Regions from separate parts of the Homo sapiens genome. Here region 1 is linked to region 2. Evidence: fine-mapped expression QTL. A gene starts in region 2. The other region holds a variant in brackets. All regions are shown on one strand. Distances are between the middles of the regions. Region 1 overlaps LPCAT1 (lysophosphatidylcholine acyltransferase 1). Region 2 holds the start of LPCAT1 (lysophosphatidylcholine acyltransferase 1).

Region 1 (8,000 bases), 31 kb before region 2:
AGGGCTACGTGCATTACCTGTGGCCACTTTCCGTTGGACTGCGCCCGTCTCTTGATTTCTTCTACTGTTTTCCTGCGAGAATCCTGGTCTGACCGGGACACGAACACAGGCCGTATATACTGGATCAGAGCTGGAAGAGAGGAGGGGAGACGGATCACGTGGAATGCACGGCTCCCGCCAGGCAGGGCTGAGGAACGAGGGGGCTGCTGCATGGCGCCCAGTGGGGCGGGAGACTCCAGATGCCCCAGGGGCTGTGCCATGGGTGGGCTGTGAGTCCCTGACTGAGGGAACGGGAACAGCACCCGGGCTTCCCATGTCTGTGACAGCAGGAAGCCCTGTAGCCTCAGTGCCACAAGTAACAAACAGCAAGTCCATGGCACCCACTGAGGACACGGAGCACAGAACGGAGGTCAATGAAAGACAACCGCCAGGAAGCAGAAAGTCTTTAGACCCAGTCTTCACAGAGGACAGGGTTGAAGGTGCCAGGTCCCTAGATTGGACCCCGCCTTCCCCCTGTGGGTTGAACTGCATCCCCTAAAAGACAAGCTGAAGTCCTCACTCCTGGTACCGGGAATGGGACCTCATTTCGAAACAGGTGGTAGCAGATGCTCAAGGTCCCGGATGAGGGTCCCTATGGGAAGAGGAGACAAAGCAGATGCTCAAGCTAAAATCCCAGATGAGGGTCCCTATGGGAAGAGGAGACGAAGAGGGGGAGAGAAGGCCAATGATGAAGGAGGCCATAGGAGGATGTGGCCACAGCCCCCACCACGAGCCGGGAGGGCCGAGGGAGCTTTCAGAAGAGCCCAATGCGGCCAGCACTTTGTTCTGGCACTTCTGCTTTTAGACGGCGGGAGAATATGCTCCTGTTGTTCTAAGCCACCAGCTTTGTGGTGCTTTGTAGCACAGCCCCAGTTTAACCATGGCACCCCACAGCCTCCTGGAAGTTGCGGGGTTGGGGTACAAGGGACACCCCGCCATGAAGGCTGGTGCTCAGCCAAGGCAACGTGGCCACGGCACCTGTCTTTATGCAAGAGGATTGAACGTGGAAACATACTTCTTAGAAGAGAAAACTCTGAAGACTTTAAAATGAAACTATCCCTGAGTGGAGCTTCCTTTTTGAGGACGGTGAGCAGGATCCACACTCGGCGCCCCCCAGGCCAACTGAAGGTGTCTCTGACCCCACCACGGGCTCCTAGGCTGCTGCAGGTCAGCCCCACCTCCCCACCCCAGTTCAGTTTCCAGTTTCTTTTCTTAGCGTTTTTATTACTTGTAAGGAGTAGCATTTCATGACTTTTATTCTTTCTTGGAGGTTCTCTCCTCCAAGAACGAGAAAATTGAAGCCAAAAAAAGAAAATTCCTTCTATCCTGTGGTTGTCTGTTGGGTCTCTGTGGTCTTTCCTATGTCTTGAATCATTTTGCTTTTTCACGATTCCAGTACTATTTCATCCTTGCTCATTGGTTATTCCCAACTCTGCTAAAAAGGACGATATCGGAAGGGAAGAATGGCGGAGTCGTCTCGCAGGATGGCGCACGCGTCAAAGAAATGGCCCTGATTGCGTGGTCTTTCGGTGCCCACTGTTTTGGCCAAAGCGTCCCATGGTCGTCCCGGGGCACACGGGGTCTGGAGATGCCACCCTGCCACCTTCGCAATCCTGTCAGCTGGTTTGTTTTGTGAACAGAGTAGAGATTTCAGAAGTTGTCTATAACGGCAAAGAACAGAACAGTGACGTGGGGGCGTTTCACACTCAGATGGGTCCGGGGGTAAATGTGGGGGGTGCAGGGGGAGGACTCTGAGTGAAGTCTTGGGCCGTGCGTCTTCATGTGGGTTGCCCGGTGTGCCTTTCACGCTGAGAACTGGGCAGTGAGGACAGCAAGGAGATGCAGCTCCTCCCCGGGAGCCCTGAGGAGGGAAGGGTGTCACCACGCCGTGTGCACAGCCACACTGGGACTGGCGCATTTTGCCAGCAAGAAGGTGACAGCGTTCTGCCGTCTTTTGGGCATTTGAGGCTCAAACTTTCCTTGACAAGGTTTGTAAATGGATGGTGCGGATATGAAGGTCACTGAAAGGAAACTAAGAATGTGAAAAGGAAAAAATCTACCTGGTTGATCACTTTCATTGGTATTCATACATCTAAAAATGAAAATATTTTGAACATTTTCAACATTCATCTCTTCAACAAAGTTGTGAGCTGTCAAAGGGTCCACGAAAGGAACCAGAAGTCACCACAAGCTGGGACCGGGGAGATGTCTCTGAGCTGGAAACCTGGGAGACGTCTCTGAGCTGGGACCAGGGGAGATGTCTCTGAGCTGGAAACCAGGGAGATGTCTCTGAGCTGGGACCATGGGAGATGTCTCTGAGCTGGAAACCAGGGAGATGTCTCTGAGCTGGGACCAGGGGAGATTATCTCTGAGCTGGGACCACGGGAGATGTCTCTGAGCTGGAAACCTGGGAGATGTCTCTGAGCTGGGATGGGGGAAGATTATCTCTGAGCTGGGACAAGGGGAGATGTCTCTGAGCTGGAGCCTGGGGAGATGTCTCTGAGCTGGGGCCTGGGGAGATGTCTCTGAGCTGGGGCCTGGGGAGACGTCTCTGAGCTGGGGCCTGGGGAGACGTCTCTGAGCTGGGACCTGGGGAGATGGTTTTGAGCTGGAGCCTGGGGAGATGGTTCTGAGCTCCCGAATCAGAGGGTGCTCCAGGTGCGCAGTAGAGGAGTCATCAGCCACGCCCCAGGACAATGGCCCTTTCAGGCCAGGACAGCAGGGAGCAAAATGTGGTTCCTGCTAAGTCTGAATTCTAACGAAAATTTCTGATAAGCTTGTCACTATCCTCTCCCTCGCAGGTCCGTGGATTATCTCTGAAATGACAAGAAACACGCAGGGCTCCACGAGGGCCCTGCACACAGCAGCATGGCTGTGGCCATTCTTCCTGCTGCGCCGAGATGAAGGTCAGTGCTGGGTCACCTGGGTTGATCTGGAAGAGGTGGAATCCCGGGCCTCTAGAAAGATAGGACTACAACGTCCAGCATCACCGCACCAAACACTCCTTCGTGTTGGTGATCTCCACAGGGAGGCACCAAGGGCACAGGGAGAGCCCGGCCAACGCTCAGATTCACTCTGGGTGGGCCAGCCCCCCTGTCCAAGGACCCCTGCAGCTGCGAGGGTGCCTGGGCACACAGCTCCACAATCCCCCTCCCTGAGCAGATGACGAACGACCATGGGCCTTTGCCACAGTGGGGGGGCAAATGTGGTTTCCTGGGTATGCCAGAACCACAGGATGCAAAGGGTGCTGAGTGGAGCTGGGGCTGCCCCATGAGCCTGTGGAGCTTGCAGAGCGGGGAAACCTGCGTGTGAGAGCCAAGGCCATCACTCGGATGGTGCCTGCAGTCCAGTCTCGCCTCCAGTGCCGGCCTGTCCAGCCTCCTCCAGGCTTCCCCAGCCAGCCGAGTGCAGTGAGCCCTCCAGTCCCACCAAGGACCATCCCCGATTTCCAAGCCTGACCCAGGCAGACTCAGGCCACCCACAACTGCCCAGCTGCAGGCACAGTCTGGACACCTTCCGGCTGCTGCAGGCCCAATCCCCCATGGGCCATGCCAGGGTTCCTCACCCCACTTCCAGCCTTCCTATCCCAGCTGTGGCCACCACCCTCAGTGGTCAGCACCACAGAATGTGTCCCCACCCAGTCCATACTGAATGTGTCCCCCCAGATATTTTCTAGAAAACTGTCATATGAATGCTAACGTTAGGTGCTGCATGGAAACAGAGCCGGCAGGAGTGGCCAGGTGAGGGCCCCGGCCATAGGCGACGCCCCTCGTCCCAGCAGCTCCTTCCCTCAGCACCGCCCACTGCCAACCCAGGACCCGCTGTGCCCCAGAACGTGCTGTGCTGTGCTGATGGCGGCTGTGAAGGAAGCACGAGGACAGAACGGGCCCAGATGCCCTGAAGAGCACCGAGGACAGAGCTCTGGTGGGTCAGGGCTGCGCACAGGTGGGTGAGGGGCCACGCAGGGCTCCCTACAGTCCTCCCAGAGCAGTGGGTCCATGGGATGCGGCCCCCAAAGATGGGTCCACATGCTGACCCTGGAACCTGTGAATGAGGCCTTATTTGGAAAAAGGTTTTTACAGAGGTAACTCGTTAAGGATCTCAAGATGAGAGCATCCTGGATCACCCAATGACTGGTCCTTATAAGAGACTCATAGAGGAGACACTTGGAGGGAGCCAGGCCAGTCGACCACTGAGGCAGAGTCAGAGGGACGCAGCCCCCAGAGGAGGAAGAGGCAGGAAGGGGCCGCACAGGGCCTTCGGCCCAGAGACGCCTTGATTTTGAACATCTGGTCCCCAGATGACGAGAGGGTGAATCTCTGCTGGAGTGAGCCCCCGGCTTTGGGGAGGGGTCATGGCAGCACCAGGTGCTCAGGTCCCTGGTTCACGGCACAGCCGCGGTGCATGGGCAGCCCTGCCGACCTGCTCCCAAAGACTTCCAGAACTGCCATCTGATAAAGGTGAGCCACCCTTGCCAAGCAGACCTGGAGCAAGCACTGTAGCCTGTTATGATAGTGAGGGCACTCAGGTAGCAATAAAAATAACAATTACAACAACGAAAATTACACAGGAAACCCCAACACAGAAAATGGGGCACAAGGCCAATGTGCCCGGCGGTGGGGGCTCGATCACTCCCAGCAGCGTGGTGG[G/T]GGGGGGGTCCCTCACTCCCGGTAGGGAGGGTCTCACTCATTTCCAGCAAGTGGGGGTCCCTCATTCCTAGCAGGGAGGGATCTCTCATTCCCAGAAGGGGGGGTCCCTAAAAACCAGCAGGGAGTCCCTCATTGCCAGCAACAGAGGGGGTCTCACTCATTCCCAACAGAGGGGGGACCCTCACTCCCAGCAGGAGGGGAATCTCTTATTCTCAGCAGCAGGGGGATCTCTCACTCCCAGCAGGGCAGGGTCCCTCACTCCCAGCAGGGGTGTCTCACTCACTTCCCCAGATCGGGATGTCTCTGCTCTCTGCCTTCATCACGATGGAGGACATCGTCATGGTCACAGGGATGGCGTCGAAGTAGGACGAGTGAGGCGCGAGCGTGAGGATGGCCGCCTCGGTGGGCAGCGCCTGCCGCCCCTTCACGGCCACCCGGTGGAAGCCGCCGGCGAACCACATGGTGCGCATGATGGCCTTCAGCAGGAAGTCCACAACCCTGCAAAAGAGGGCGCTGCGTCACGCGGGCACACGTCCGCAGTCTCGGAGTCTGTGTGAGGCACAGGGGCGGTCCCACGGGAGAGCCCTCCAGGGCGCAGTCCAGGCCACGGGCTTCCTGTGGTCGCCGCCGCTGGGACATCTGCTTGAGGGAAGAAAAGACGCCGCGCCTTCCTGGCCTCCGCCTGTGTCCTCGCTGGCTGCGCTCTCACCTACGAAGGAGGCCGCGGGGCCCTGTGTGGTGGTCACGGGCCACGCGGCAGGCAGTGCTAAGACAACATGAGACTCCGGAACACAGACAGCACAAGTCCCAGGCCAGAAGACCTCCGGACCTTCATGTTAGCAACTTATTTATCAGCATCCTATCATTTTGAAATGGGAAAAACATTAAAACACCTAAAACGCATATCGCAATATGGGGGGGGGGGCGCTCAGAGCTGAGGGCGGAAGCTGAGACCTGCGTGCGAACTTCCCCATCTCATCTCCACAGGAAGCCCGGGGTTCCCACAACCAGGCGTTGTGTTATTACAGTGAGCTGTTTCTGGAGGAAATTAGATGGCCAATAAATTTGGAAAATAAAGTAAAAATCAGCCTAGGTTAACTGAATTTGTGTACTCTTTATCTCTTTTTAAAATAGGTACAAATTTAGCCTTTTAAATGTGTGTATTCTCTTTCATATGAGGCTACAGATTAGGCTGTTATTCCACACCTCAGGGAATTGACACGCAGCAGACAGCCACGGTGTGTGAGAAGCCACAGGTCAGGCACACAGAGAACATGATTCAGCCTCATGAGAAGCCACGGCTCACTCGGCCACTGGGTTAAGTGGGCGCATCACACTGGGTAAAACTACTGCACAGAGAAACAAGAGCCTGAAGCCTTACTGGATTCACATTGCCCTGGGACAGATGATCCTCCCAGAAGACTTCCAGGACAGGGGTCCCCATGGATCTGAGCCAAGGCGGTTGCTAGGAGGGCACAAAGCCTCCTCTCGTGGGGCCACCTTGGAATGGCCTTTGTGTATGCGATGATAAACAATGGTGTAGTTACACATGGAGATGCTGGGGACCAACCCAGGGTGCTGCTTGTCTAGAGGAGGGGGGATTACACAGGTGTGCACTTCTTCACCACCTGTTCAGCTGCATATTTAAAAATGTACTTTTCTGGCCAGGCATGGTGGCTCACGCCTGTAATCACAGCACTTTGGGAGGCCAAGGCAGGTGGATCACTTGAGGTCAGGAGCTCAAGACCAGCCTGGCCAACATGGTGAAACCCTGTCTCTACTAAAAATACAAAAATTAGCTGGGCATGGTGGCAGGCGTCTGTAATCCCAGCCACTCAGGAGGCTGAGGCAGGAGAACTGCTTGAACCCAAGGGGCGGAGGTTGCAGTGAGCCGAGATTGCGCCACTGCACTCCAGCCTGGGCAACAGAGTGAGACTCCATCTCAAGAAAACTAAACTAAAAAATAAAGATGTACTCTTCTGTGCACATGTTATTTTCCACAAAAAAAAAAAAAAAGTACAAAAACAAAAGCCAAAAGACAGCAATTGATGCCTAAGATGGAAGAAACAAGGCAGCGGCGGAGGGAGAAGCGAGGCTGCAGAGGAGGCTGCGGCGGGCACAGGAGCCAGTCTCGGGCAGGTTCAGGGGCAGGAGAGAGGACAGCAGGAAAAAAGGGATTAAAACCCGGGCGGCCCTTAGAGGAACACACCTGCCAGCCCCGAAATCGAATTGCAGGGACAGACGGTGCTCAGGGGAACTGTACTGGGTGTCGGGGCAGGGAAAAAGCAGCCTCAGCTCTTCTCTAAAGATCTTGGAGGAATTTTATACCCAAACTATCCACATGTGAAAACCCGGACTGCTGGTGTGGATGACAGCCTCAGAGAAAAGCTCCGCTTGCTGTGGGGTTGGGGACCCAGCACCCACTCACCCCAAGGCAAAGGGAGCCAGCACAAGCCCAGGGTGCTCAGGTGCCTGGGCAGCCCATTCCCAGGGGAATGTGAATCAGGAGACAGATCTATCTGCATACACAGGAGCGGGGATCTCCATCAGCACCCCCAGGAAATCCACTCCGTCCTACCGCCCTCACACGGACGACACCCAAGAATCCTGAGACGTGTGAGCAGAGCAGCTGCATGGCAGAGAAGCAGAGGACTGACCCCAAGGAGACAGAAAGGGTGGGCATCAGAAGAGGGGTGCAAAACATCCACCACGCTCGCCAAGAGAGTCTGGAAGAACAGGGCGCTGAGGAGCATCAAAGAACAAGAAAACACTCTCAGAAACCAAGACTGTCACTGTGGAGACAAGCAACTCACAGGAAAGACTGGGAAATGAGGAGGAGGAAATCTCCCAGAACATGCAGGGGGAAAAGGAGGAAGGCCGCTGAGGCCTGCATCTCCTCAAGCCAGCTGGCATGTGGAGGTGGGTGGGGGAAGCCCACACGTCTAAGCGTGAGGGGCAGGCGCAGGCCCCGGCTCTGCAGGTTCCAAATGTTCTGCTGTGAGCAGAGGCAAGAGGCAGAGTGGAGCCGGCCCTGGAGAGGACCTATACACATGTACACAGCCTGAGTGCTGGCTACGGTGCCAGGCCGGTGGGGTAGGGCAAAGGAAGGGGCCCTGGGGCCACGTCTGGCGGGGCTTCAAGGAGGCAAGTCTGGTGATCCACGTGGACTGGCTTAGCTGGGTCAGGGACGGCCCCTGGGTGGCTGGTGGGAGGGCTGTGTTGGGCTGGCAGGTGTGGAGGGGCAGCCCCAGGCTGAGACGCAGGTGGCAGGAGCTGCTGGCTTCTGGGAGACCAGATAAAGTGGTTTGATGC
Region 2 (9,570 bases):
TGGCCTTCTCCATCCTCCCCAAGGGACAGGCACTCTCCTGCACATCCTCCACAGGGTGTGGCTGCCCTGTGCTCCCACCGGGTACACTGCCCAGGGCTCCTTGGCCCACCCCACCCCTCCACATCCACTGCCCGGCAATGGGGCTGAGCGAAGAGCCAGTCTTACTGAATCCAGGCAGGCAGCACCCAGGGACCCAGTGGGCAGCAGGAGCAGCTCAGAGAAGCCTGAGGAACCCCCATCCCCGTGCATGTGTGCCTGGAGGGCACCAAGGGTCAAGAACACACTGCAAACACAGCCATCCACGTGAGGAGCCTGGCAACGTGTGCAGGCACACGAATTCCTGTTCTGCAGTGGCCATGCTGGACTCAGGAGCGAGGCTGAGAGGGCGGAGTCCTGCTCCTGAGTTTTTTTAAAAAATCACAACTCAGGTATTTGTATAAAAATGTGGAGAAAAAGATGGCCCACTTTTGGGTAAATTCTATGCAGGGCCACCAGGCAGGGAGGGGCAGAATCTGTCCCTGGACTCAACCCTCATCATAATCCTCTCTGTGGATTAGCCAGCGTGGGCAGGCGGGCACCCAGCAGCCTCCTCCACTCTGAGACAGCAACGCCCGTCCAAGGACTCAGCTCCAAGGTGCACAGGAAGGCATTATGCTTTCCAGGATGTAAGTTCTTGCCAACTCTGGTTCCGAGCAGCAGAGACTTTAGAAATGGGGAAAATGGGCCGGGCGCGGTGGTTCACGCCTGTAATCCCAGCACTTTGGGAGGCCGAGGCGGGAGGATCACAAGGTCAGGAGATCGAGACCATCCTGGCTAACACGGTGAGACCCCATCTCTACTAAAAATACAAAAAAAAATTAGCCGGGCATTGTGGCGGGCGCCTGTAGTCCCAGCTACTCGGGAGGCTGAGGCAGGAGAATGGCGTGAACCCGGGAAGCAGAGCTTGTAGTGAGCCGATATCGCACCTCTGCACTCCAGCCTGGGCGACAGAGAGAGACTGTCTCAAAAAAAAAAAAAAAAAAAGAAAAAGAAAAAGAAAAAAAAAAGAAATGGGGAAAACGCATCAGAACCATAGTGGGAAATACTCATACCCACAGATTCCAAGGAAAGTACCGAGAAAACCCTGGGTGACAGAAACCACTTCATGACTCCAAAACGATATATGAATGTGTGACTATGAAGAACCTCAGCTGAACTCACTAAGATCCTGTACCATACCATTTACCGCTCTCTACTAAATCTATATCCTTGCTTTAGCCAGAGGATTAAAACATTGCACGTATTACAGACCCTGATGGCTTTGATACCTCTTTTCAGATCTTAATGTGCTGTTTTCTGTCCAAAGAGATACTTAAGCTCCTCACTAAATCTGTAGTTAAATGACAGATGGGCTGGCTGGAGGAGGAGGTGTCCCCGCATGGCGCTAATCCGAAGACACACAGCAGCCCCTCCCAGGCGGCAAATGCTCACAGGTAAATGCAGGTACTCACTGGTTTATCTCAACTGGGAACTTAGCTGGGTTTCTGCGGGTTCTTGAGTGTGTCAGCCACTACTGGACCCATTTCTTTCTTTGGGGAAGAAGGCTTTCTTGGCTTGAAAGACAGGCTATTTCACTCTGTGGAAACTTTACAAGAATATATCACATCAAAGTAAAAGCTTTGCAAAGCAATGCTTGGTGAAAAGCAAAATGTTTCTGCAGAGAACTTTGAGAACGTTTACAAACTAAACCCTTGAGCCACACATTGCAGACATCCAGCAGAAACGACTGGATGTACAAACACACCTAATTCCTCAGATGGAACCTCTGAAGTGGCAACAAAGCAAGCCCCCTCTCTGAGAGGCCCCAACACCTCAAGCCAGGATCTCTGCCTGGCTTCGGCCCAAGGGAGAACAGCTGCCCAAAGCCTTCAATCTCGGGACCAGGAGCCTCTCGATGACCCCCTGCCCAAGAGCCACTGGGAGCAGCTTGCACCCTGAGGTCTCGGGGAGGAAAGCAGGCCCCTCTGGGCACTCTGGCAGTGCCCTGACATCTGTACCTACCCATGAGAGTCTCTGCCCTGCTTCTCGCCAGGGCAGTGGGTGCACACTTTTGGACAGAACACACCTCAACCGGGGGCTGCAACTATGACAGGGATGACGAAGTGGCCTCCGGGGACCTCCAGGGAGGGGCTTGATGTTTCCCCCCAGGGAGCCAGGAGGGAGTAGGAAAGGCAGGAAGAGAGAGCATGCCTGAGGCAGCCATAGCTGGGGCAGGAGCAGGGCTGGGGAAGCCCTGGAAACCACAGCAGGGGTTCGAATTTCATCCGGGGGCGTCCCCGCTGAGGGCTTCCGAGCAGCAGAGTGCAGGAGGAAGAAAGCCTGCTGGGAGTGACTCAGGGAGAGTGACCAGGGAGAGAGCCTGGTGGCTGGGTGGGGGTGAGGATTGAAGAGGAGGAATGGTTGAGGGGCACAGAATGAGCGACCGTGTCCCAAGTCCTCCTTTGAGGGGCACAGCACACGGCAGCTGACAGCGTGTGGCAGACAGAGGGCCAGGCAGAGCGGCGGCAGAGGGGCCGGCACCGCCCCAGCCCCAGAGTCCAGCTCCCGACACACAGGGAGACGGGGGCCAGGGCCTGGGAGCCAGGCTGGGGACGACCTCACCCTGTGTGTCACCAGGAGGGGCGGCACCATCGGGCTCTCCTGCTCCCCGTCCCCTTCCATACCCTGAGGACCAGCCGCATCAAGGGGCTTTGAGCAAAAGCAGGCGTCCTGGGAAAATGACAAGCTCAAACTGGCCTCAAGAACTTTTCACTTCAGGGTTCTTTCAGATAAAGTACTTTATGCATTAACAAATCTCCATCTTCCCGGAAATCTATTCTCACAATTGGAAGCGTGCTCCCTACAAACCGGACAGCCCCATAGGCCCCGAAACAGTGCTTGCTTCTAGGAATTATTCTAGAGTCAAAAGTAAGGTCCTCTTGAGAGTGGATCTCAGGTAACTGTAAGCCCAGCTGGCAGCCAGGTAGCCGGAAAAGCCAGGCTGAGCCAGCACATCCCCGGTGCAGCTTCCTGCAGCGAGCGGCCCCCTCCCCACGACGCCCCCGGGTCTCCCCTCACCACTGTCCCATCGCAGGATCTCAGCAAACCGTTCCCTCCCACGTGGCAGCCCAGGTTGCATAAAGTTGATTCGGGTCAGACCAGCCCCGAGAAAGCATCCCTTACAACAGGAGCGAAGCATGCACCCCAGAAGGCAACGTGCGGCCGCAGAGCAGGGAGACCCGTGCGCCTACAGGGGACCCTACAGGGGACCCGCACCGCCCGCGCGCCCTGTCCCGGGCACCACCAGGCCCCGCACACGAGGCTCACCCAGAGCCGCGGTGCCCTCCCGCCCGCGGGCCGCGTCCAGGCAAAGCCGCTCCGGAGTCCCCGGGCTGCGCGCAGGGCCTGCCAAGGCGGGCGGGGCCCGGACCAGGGACGAGCGCGGGGACCGGCGATGCGGGTCCAGCCTCCCGCGGGAGCCGAGGTCGGGGCTCTGGGAGGCAGAGAAAGGGTTGTGGGCCCGGTTCAGGGTGCAGGGGTCTGGGGGGAGGAGCAGAACGCGGGGCGGGGATGGGAAGCGGGGACCCCGAGGAAGGCGCTGAGGGACCAGGATGCGCGTGCGGGCGGCGGGAAGCCGGCGCCGAGACCGAGGCATCGGGTGCGGGCGGCGGGGACGCGAACTGAGGGGCGGCCGCGGGGAGGGAAGGCGCCGCGGCTCGCAGGGCCGCGCCGCGCCCCAGGCCCCCTCCCCGGCCCCTCCTCGGCCGCGCCTCCCTGGCCCCAGCATCCCTGGCGTCCGCGCCGGCTCCCGGGGCCGCGCGCCCTGGGCACCCACCTGGGCCTTCTGCAGGGCGCTGAGGCGCAGCTCGTGCACGAAGGGGTTCCGCCCCGGGGGCGCCAGCAGCCGAGCGTCGCTGGCCCCTGCGCTGGAGGCAGGGGCGGCCCGGGGTCCGCATCCCCGCAGCCTCATGGCCGCGCCGTCCCGCGGCGAGCGCAGCCGAGCTGCCTGGGGCGCCGAGCGGGGCCGGGGCTAGCTGGGCGCGGGTCTCGGGGCGCGGGCCGAGGATGCGCGGCGGCTGGAGCGGGCCGGGCGCGCAGGCGCGGGAGGTGACGTGGGCGGAGCGGGAGCGCCGGCCGGGGCGGGGCGTCCCTGGAAGCCTCGCCTCCCGCCGGCCGGCAGGGGCGGCACCAGCCGGAGTTCCGCTACCTGGTGGTTTCTCTGGGGTCTGTGGGGGGCCGGGGCCGCTGGGGACCGGGGGCGCCTCCTGCAGCCACTGGAGCACAGGGATCCCCGGCAGGGTCTGCGCCAGGAGAAAGGGAGGTCCCCCGGGCCCGCGAGGCTGCCACGTCGTCCCCTTCCGCCGCTCGGCCCGCCTGCTCGCGGGGAGGGAGGAAGGGGCGGGCACGCGTCCAGCTTACGCGCAAGGCGGGCCAGGCCCTGGGTGCCGAGCCCCGGGCTGTTCCGGCGAAGGCCCCACGCCATTCTTCTTATTCGTTGGGCTCCTAGCTCGCACCGGCGACCCTGGAAGCTGCCCCGGGCTGAGGGAGCTTCTTCCAGCCGCGCCTCAGCCCAGGCGACTCCCGCCTGAGGTCCACTCGACCTTAGGACCCCCCAGACCTCGGGATCCCCTCAGATCTCAGGACCCCTCAAGCCTCAGGACCCCCTCAGACCTCAGGACCCCTCCGATCTCAGGACCTCTCAGGCCTCAGGCCCCGCAGGGATGGCCCAGGCAGGAGGCGCACATAGGGGCCCTGACTGTCCGTGCTGGTTGTGCAGGGGCTGCGATGAGATCCCAGCGCTTTCTCACCCGTAGCTGCTTTGGCTCGGGCATTGCCCTTGTGGTGCTCAGGAGCCGTGTGAGGAGCCCCAGGGTGGGGCCCATAATTAGCCGGAGCGAGAGTAGGATGGGCTCCTGCCTCCGGGTGAACACGCTTGGATTTCAGAACTCACGCAGGCCTTCGGTCACAGTGCTCACGGCTTCCTCACCCCGGCTGGCCCTGTTGGTTCCTTCATGGCCAACGGACCTCACCCAGACAGAGCCGGTTTGGGCCACCTGGCCAACCCCCCAGGGTCCTGGCTCCTGGGGATGTCACTGCTGTGTTGGCCCCAGCTGGGCCCCATCCTCAGCAGACGCCAGGGAGTGCCCCGACCCCTCCAATGACCCTGCCTGCGCCCTTGTGGACCTCATAGTGCAGCGGGCTGGCAGAGACCCTTCTGTGTCTGAGACCGGGGTGAGGGCCAGGGGTCTGTGCCATCCACATATCATGCACAGAGAAGGCCCCGGCAGGCCAGACCCGCTGCATGGCCTTATTCCTGCCCCATAAGAGTCCCAGCCCATATTCCTGCCCCATAAGAGTCCCAGCCCATGCCTAGCAGCAGCACCTGTCCCAAGTGCCACACCCACGGGGATGGGGTGAGCCCTGTGTGCTGGTGGGCATTGGTGGCTCTGTGGCCCAGCCACCAGCGTTGCACCCACCTCCTGGGCTTTTAGTGGCCACTTGCTCTGATCCCCAAAACCAGAGCCCAGCACCCGAGGCCACCCAAGGCTCCTCACCGAACTGATCATCAAGAAAGCCCAGGACACAAAGCCTGCCAGCCACAGGGCAGCACCTGCACCCCAGCGATCCAGGCGGCCCCACCTGCTGCCTGAGTGCTCTGGAGAGGAGGGGCCCTAGGGTGTCCCAGTCCTGGGATGAGAGCAGCCTCAGGACTGGACTTGGAGAGCCATGAAAGTGGGGTCCTCCCAGAAGCACAGGCCAGGAAGCGGTGTGTGGCGGAGGGGAAACCTGCTGGAGATGGTGCAGAGCCAGATTCAATGGGGAGAGCTGCCAGAGAGTCATGGCTGTGTCCCCAGAAGATGCAAAAGTCCTAACCCACAGCACCTGTGGCCGCGACCTTATTTGGAAACAGGGTCTTTGCAGATGATCAGGTTAAGAGGAAGTCATTAGGGTGGGCCCTAGTCTGAAATGGCTTGTGTCCCTATAGAGAGGGAGATTCGGTCTCAGAGACAGACACAGAGAGAGCTCCATGGGAAGGCCAGGGTTCTGCTGCTACAGGCAAGCAGTTCCCAGGAGCTGGAGAGGCCTGGAGCAGGTCCTCTCTAGTGCTCTCAGAGGGAGCCTAGGCCTAGGGTGCCATGATCGCAGGCTTCTGGCCTCCAGACTGGGAGAGAATAAATTCCTTCTGCTTTAACCTGCAGAGTGCAAAGTGAGTTGGAACCCAGGGAAGGAGGTGGGGAGGCTGGGGGAAGAACCTCATACTGCCCGGCAATCTAAGCAGGGTCAGCAGGTTGTCCTTGAGCCAAGGTCGGTGGAAAGAGGAGTCCCTCTCCCAGAGGGGTCTTAGGTGGAGCCACTGTGGGCAGCGTGGCCTTGGTGTAGAAGCTCAGTGGATCCTTGGGTCACAGGCACCATGTGGAGGAGGCGCAGAGGCCCAGCTCCGGGGTCAGTACACAAGGGGGCACAGCTGGGAGGGTGGGTGTGACAGGGCCAAGGGCTGTGCAGAGCAGGGGGCAGGACTGGGGCACACTCGTCCTCACCAAGCAGAACCCAAGAAGGCCCCAGAGAGCGGCCAAGGAGCGGAGGTCCCCAGAGGGGCTGAGTCCACGGAACTGCCCCATCCAGGAGGACTGGCCAGGAGAGAACTGGGAAGGCCAGCCAGTGGTAGTAGCAAGGGTGGAGACCACCACCCTGCAGGGTGCTGTGGAGTGGGCAGGAGTTACAGAGGTTCTTTCCCAGCTACCTGAGAAAGGAGGAAGCGTGATGGGCAGGAGGAGGAAAATGGATGCTTGGCGGGAGGCTGGGATCCAGGGCAGCAGCTCAAGGAAGGGGCCCAGGACATGTTCCTGGGTGGAAGGCAACAGGCCAGCCTCACAGGAGACGTTGAAAACCCCTGTGAGAGGGGGTGTCATGGGCCCATCTCAGTCTGGAAGGATTCTGCGCTCAGAGGAAGGAAAGGCCTGGGGCCCGGAGCGGGGACTCCTTCTCTGCTGCAGCTGGAAGGGGTTGGATGGTCCACAGGGCACGTGCCCAGGGGGTGGGGAGCTGGGGCACTCTTGTGTGTGGGAGTCAGTTTTCTCCTGGGGACTGCGAGGGGTGGGGGAGAGGGGCTGCTTATGGGGAAATCAGCGCAAGCGTGGAGGAGCAGCAAGGAAATTCCTCCACCCACACTGGGCCTTCACACTTAGGCTTTGGTTCTGCTATGTAATGGAACGTTCTTAAGACCTGGAGGGTCTGGAAGCTTGACTAAGAGAAGTTGGTCTTGGGTGGGGAGGTATAAGCAGTTTTCTCTGTCTAGCAGGGGAAACATGAGTTTCTCATTAGGACTTAGTTTTGGGAAAACCACCCTAAGGGCCCTTTAGCTACAAAGGGAGCCCCCACTGTGGTTCTCAGGAACCTCCTGGAAGCCCCCCACAGCTCCCTGGGGCTGGTAACCACACCCCTGAGGCTTCTTGCTCTGGTTTTGTCTCTGTTTTAAGAGTGTAAGCTCACAGAGAAGTGTTTCCTATACTCCAAGTGCATTGAGAACACAAGGTACCTGCTTGTTCTGGTAAGGCTGAGTATTTTTGTTTTGTTTGTTTAATTTTTGAATTTTAGAGTTATCTATAGGATAGAAAAAGATATTCTCCTTCATTTTCTACTAACATCTTTTTTCAGTTCTGCCTTTCATGGTTGCATTTTATTCTATTTGAAGATTTTTTTCTCTGCATGGAGACCTGATATTCTCAACACCACGTATCAATCACAGACTCCCACTTGTGGGTCCACTTCCAGCATGAACAGAAAGAAGGGTTCCTGAAGCTCCTTCTGGCTGCCCCATCTCACCCATTGGTCCGTGTACTCCTTTACTCCCGTCTCACCCGCCGGTCCGCGTACTCCTTTACTCCTGTCTCACACCTTTCAACCGTCTGCCTTAGTAACTGTAGAGGGGGTTCCTTCCTGTTGGCGCTTCTTCCCAAGAATTGTAGTAGGAATTCAGGGAATTTTATTTTTCCATCCAAATTTTGGAAGCAGTTGTCCCCATTGCTAAAAATTCCCGCTGGAAGCTTCCTTTTGAATCACATTAATTGTACAGGGTACTTCAGTAAGAATGTTACTTCATTCTTACTGTTCATTCTCCCTGTTCCCTAAGAATGTTACTTCAGTAAGAGCTGGCTGGTCCTGGGAGGGGCCCTCGAAGGGCCAGCAAGGCTCCAAGGCTCCAAGGCTTCAAAGCACTAGAAAATACAAAAAAAAAATTTTTTAAATGGATGATGTGGCATGGACACTTTATAATTTTGAGAACGATTTTTCACCAACATGGTTATTCTACCATTTATTTAGATGTTCTTTCATGCCCTTTGATAGCATTTTAAATTTTTCTACATAAAGATTCTGTATTTTTGTTAATTCCTTGATGCTTCATACTTCTGCAGTGATGTAATAATCGTTTCAAAAATTACTCTTGGGCCGGGCGCGGTGGCTCATGCCTGTAATCTCAGCACTTTGGGACGCCGAGGTGGGCGGATCATCTGAGGTCAGGAGTTCGAGACCAGCCTGGCCAACATGGCAAAACCCCATCTCTACTAAAAATATGACAATTAGCCAGGTGTGGTGGCACACGCCTGTAGTCCCAGCTACCCGGGAGGCTGAGGCAGGAGGATTGCTTGAACCTGGGAGACAGAGGTTGCAGTGAGCCAAGATCACGCCACTGTACTCCAGCCTGGGCAAGAACAGAGCGAGACTCTCTTTCAAAAAAAAAAATTACTCTTGACAGTATGGATTATATGGAGAACCACTACTGCTTGTGTAGAGGTTGTATGAAGACAGACCCCAGGGTACAAGAGGACCTGTGGATGTTCCAGATGAGGAGTGCACAGCCCCAGAGTGAGGGACTCCATCATGTACAATGGATGGACTTCCTATTCAACCCACAATCATGACAAACAGAAAATTGTGGTGGTTTTCAGTCACTACAGACTGAGATGGTTTGTTAAGCAGTGATAGTGTCTTTCAAAGAGCAGATATTTTAAATTTTGATGAAGTCCAATTTATCAGCGTTTTCTTTTAGGGATCATGGTTTTGGTATCCTCTTTTATAAATATTTACCTGCATCAAGGTCATTCAGATTTTCTTACTTCAGAAGTTTTACAGTTTTGGCTTTACCATTTAGGTCTGTATTCCATTTCAAGTTGACATTTGTACACGGCATAAAGTAAAGTGGAGGCAGAGGTTTTTTAGTTTCAAATGTTTTCGTCTGAATATTCAACTGTTTCGGCACCATTTGTTGAAGAGAATATTCTTTCTCCATTGAACTACCTTGACAACTTTGTAAAAAAATTAAGTGGCCATATATGTATAGTTGAGTCTATTCCTGGACTCTGTATTTTGTTCCATGGATCTGTACATCTGCAACTGCCAACATCACACTATACTGATTACTAAAGCTTTATATTAGTCTTGAAATTAGACTGCACTGCACTGGAGTGCAGTGGCCCGATCTCGGCTCACTGCAGACTCCGCCTCCTGAGTTCAAGCGATTCTCCTGTCTCAGCCTTCGGAGTAGCTGGGACT

The links.
Region 1: its variant is fine-mapped to the expression of LPCAT1 in whole blood (TOPMed, PIP 0.94).

The regions. Positions count from the first base shown.
Region 1 is chr5:1,489,729-1,497,728 of GRCh38, forward strand. It overlaps LPCAT1 (lysophosphatidylcholine acyltransferase 1), which reads right to left. Exons shown (of 14, transcript NM_024830.5): 3 at 4,972-5,186; 4 at 18-130. LOC124901162 (a long non-coding RNA gene) reads left to right here. Exons shown (of 2, transcript XR_007059103.1): 1 at 1-2,945; 2 at 3,744-5,791. Among named protein-coding and RNA genes, the nearest start is that of MIR6075, 17 kb to the right of the region's middle. RefSeq lists an enhancer at 4,209-5,408. The variant G/T (reference allele first, on the strand shown) is at 4,689.
Region 2 is chr5:1,519,857-1,529,426 of GRCh38, forward strand. It overlaps LPCAT1 (lysophosphatidylcholine acyltransferase 1), which reads right to left and starts at 4,104. Exons shown (of 14, transcript NM_024830.5): 1 at 3,854-4,104. The coding sequence starts at 3,988. RefSeq lists an enhancer at 1,627-2,131, silencers at 3,292-3,491, 3,762-4,071, 4,092-4,491 and a cis regulatory region at 5,261-5,496.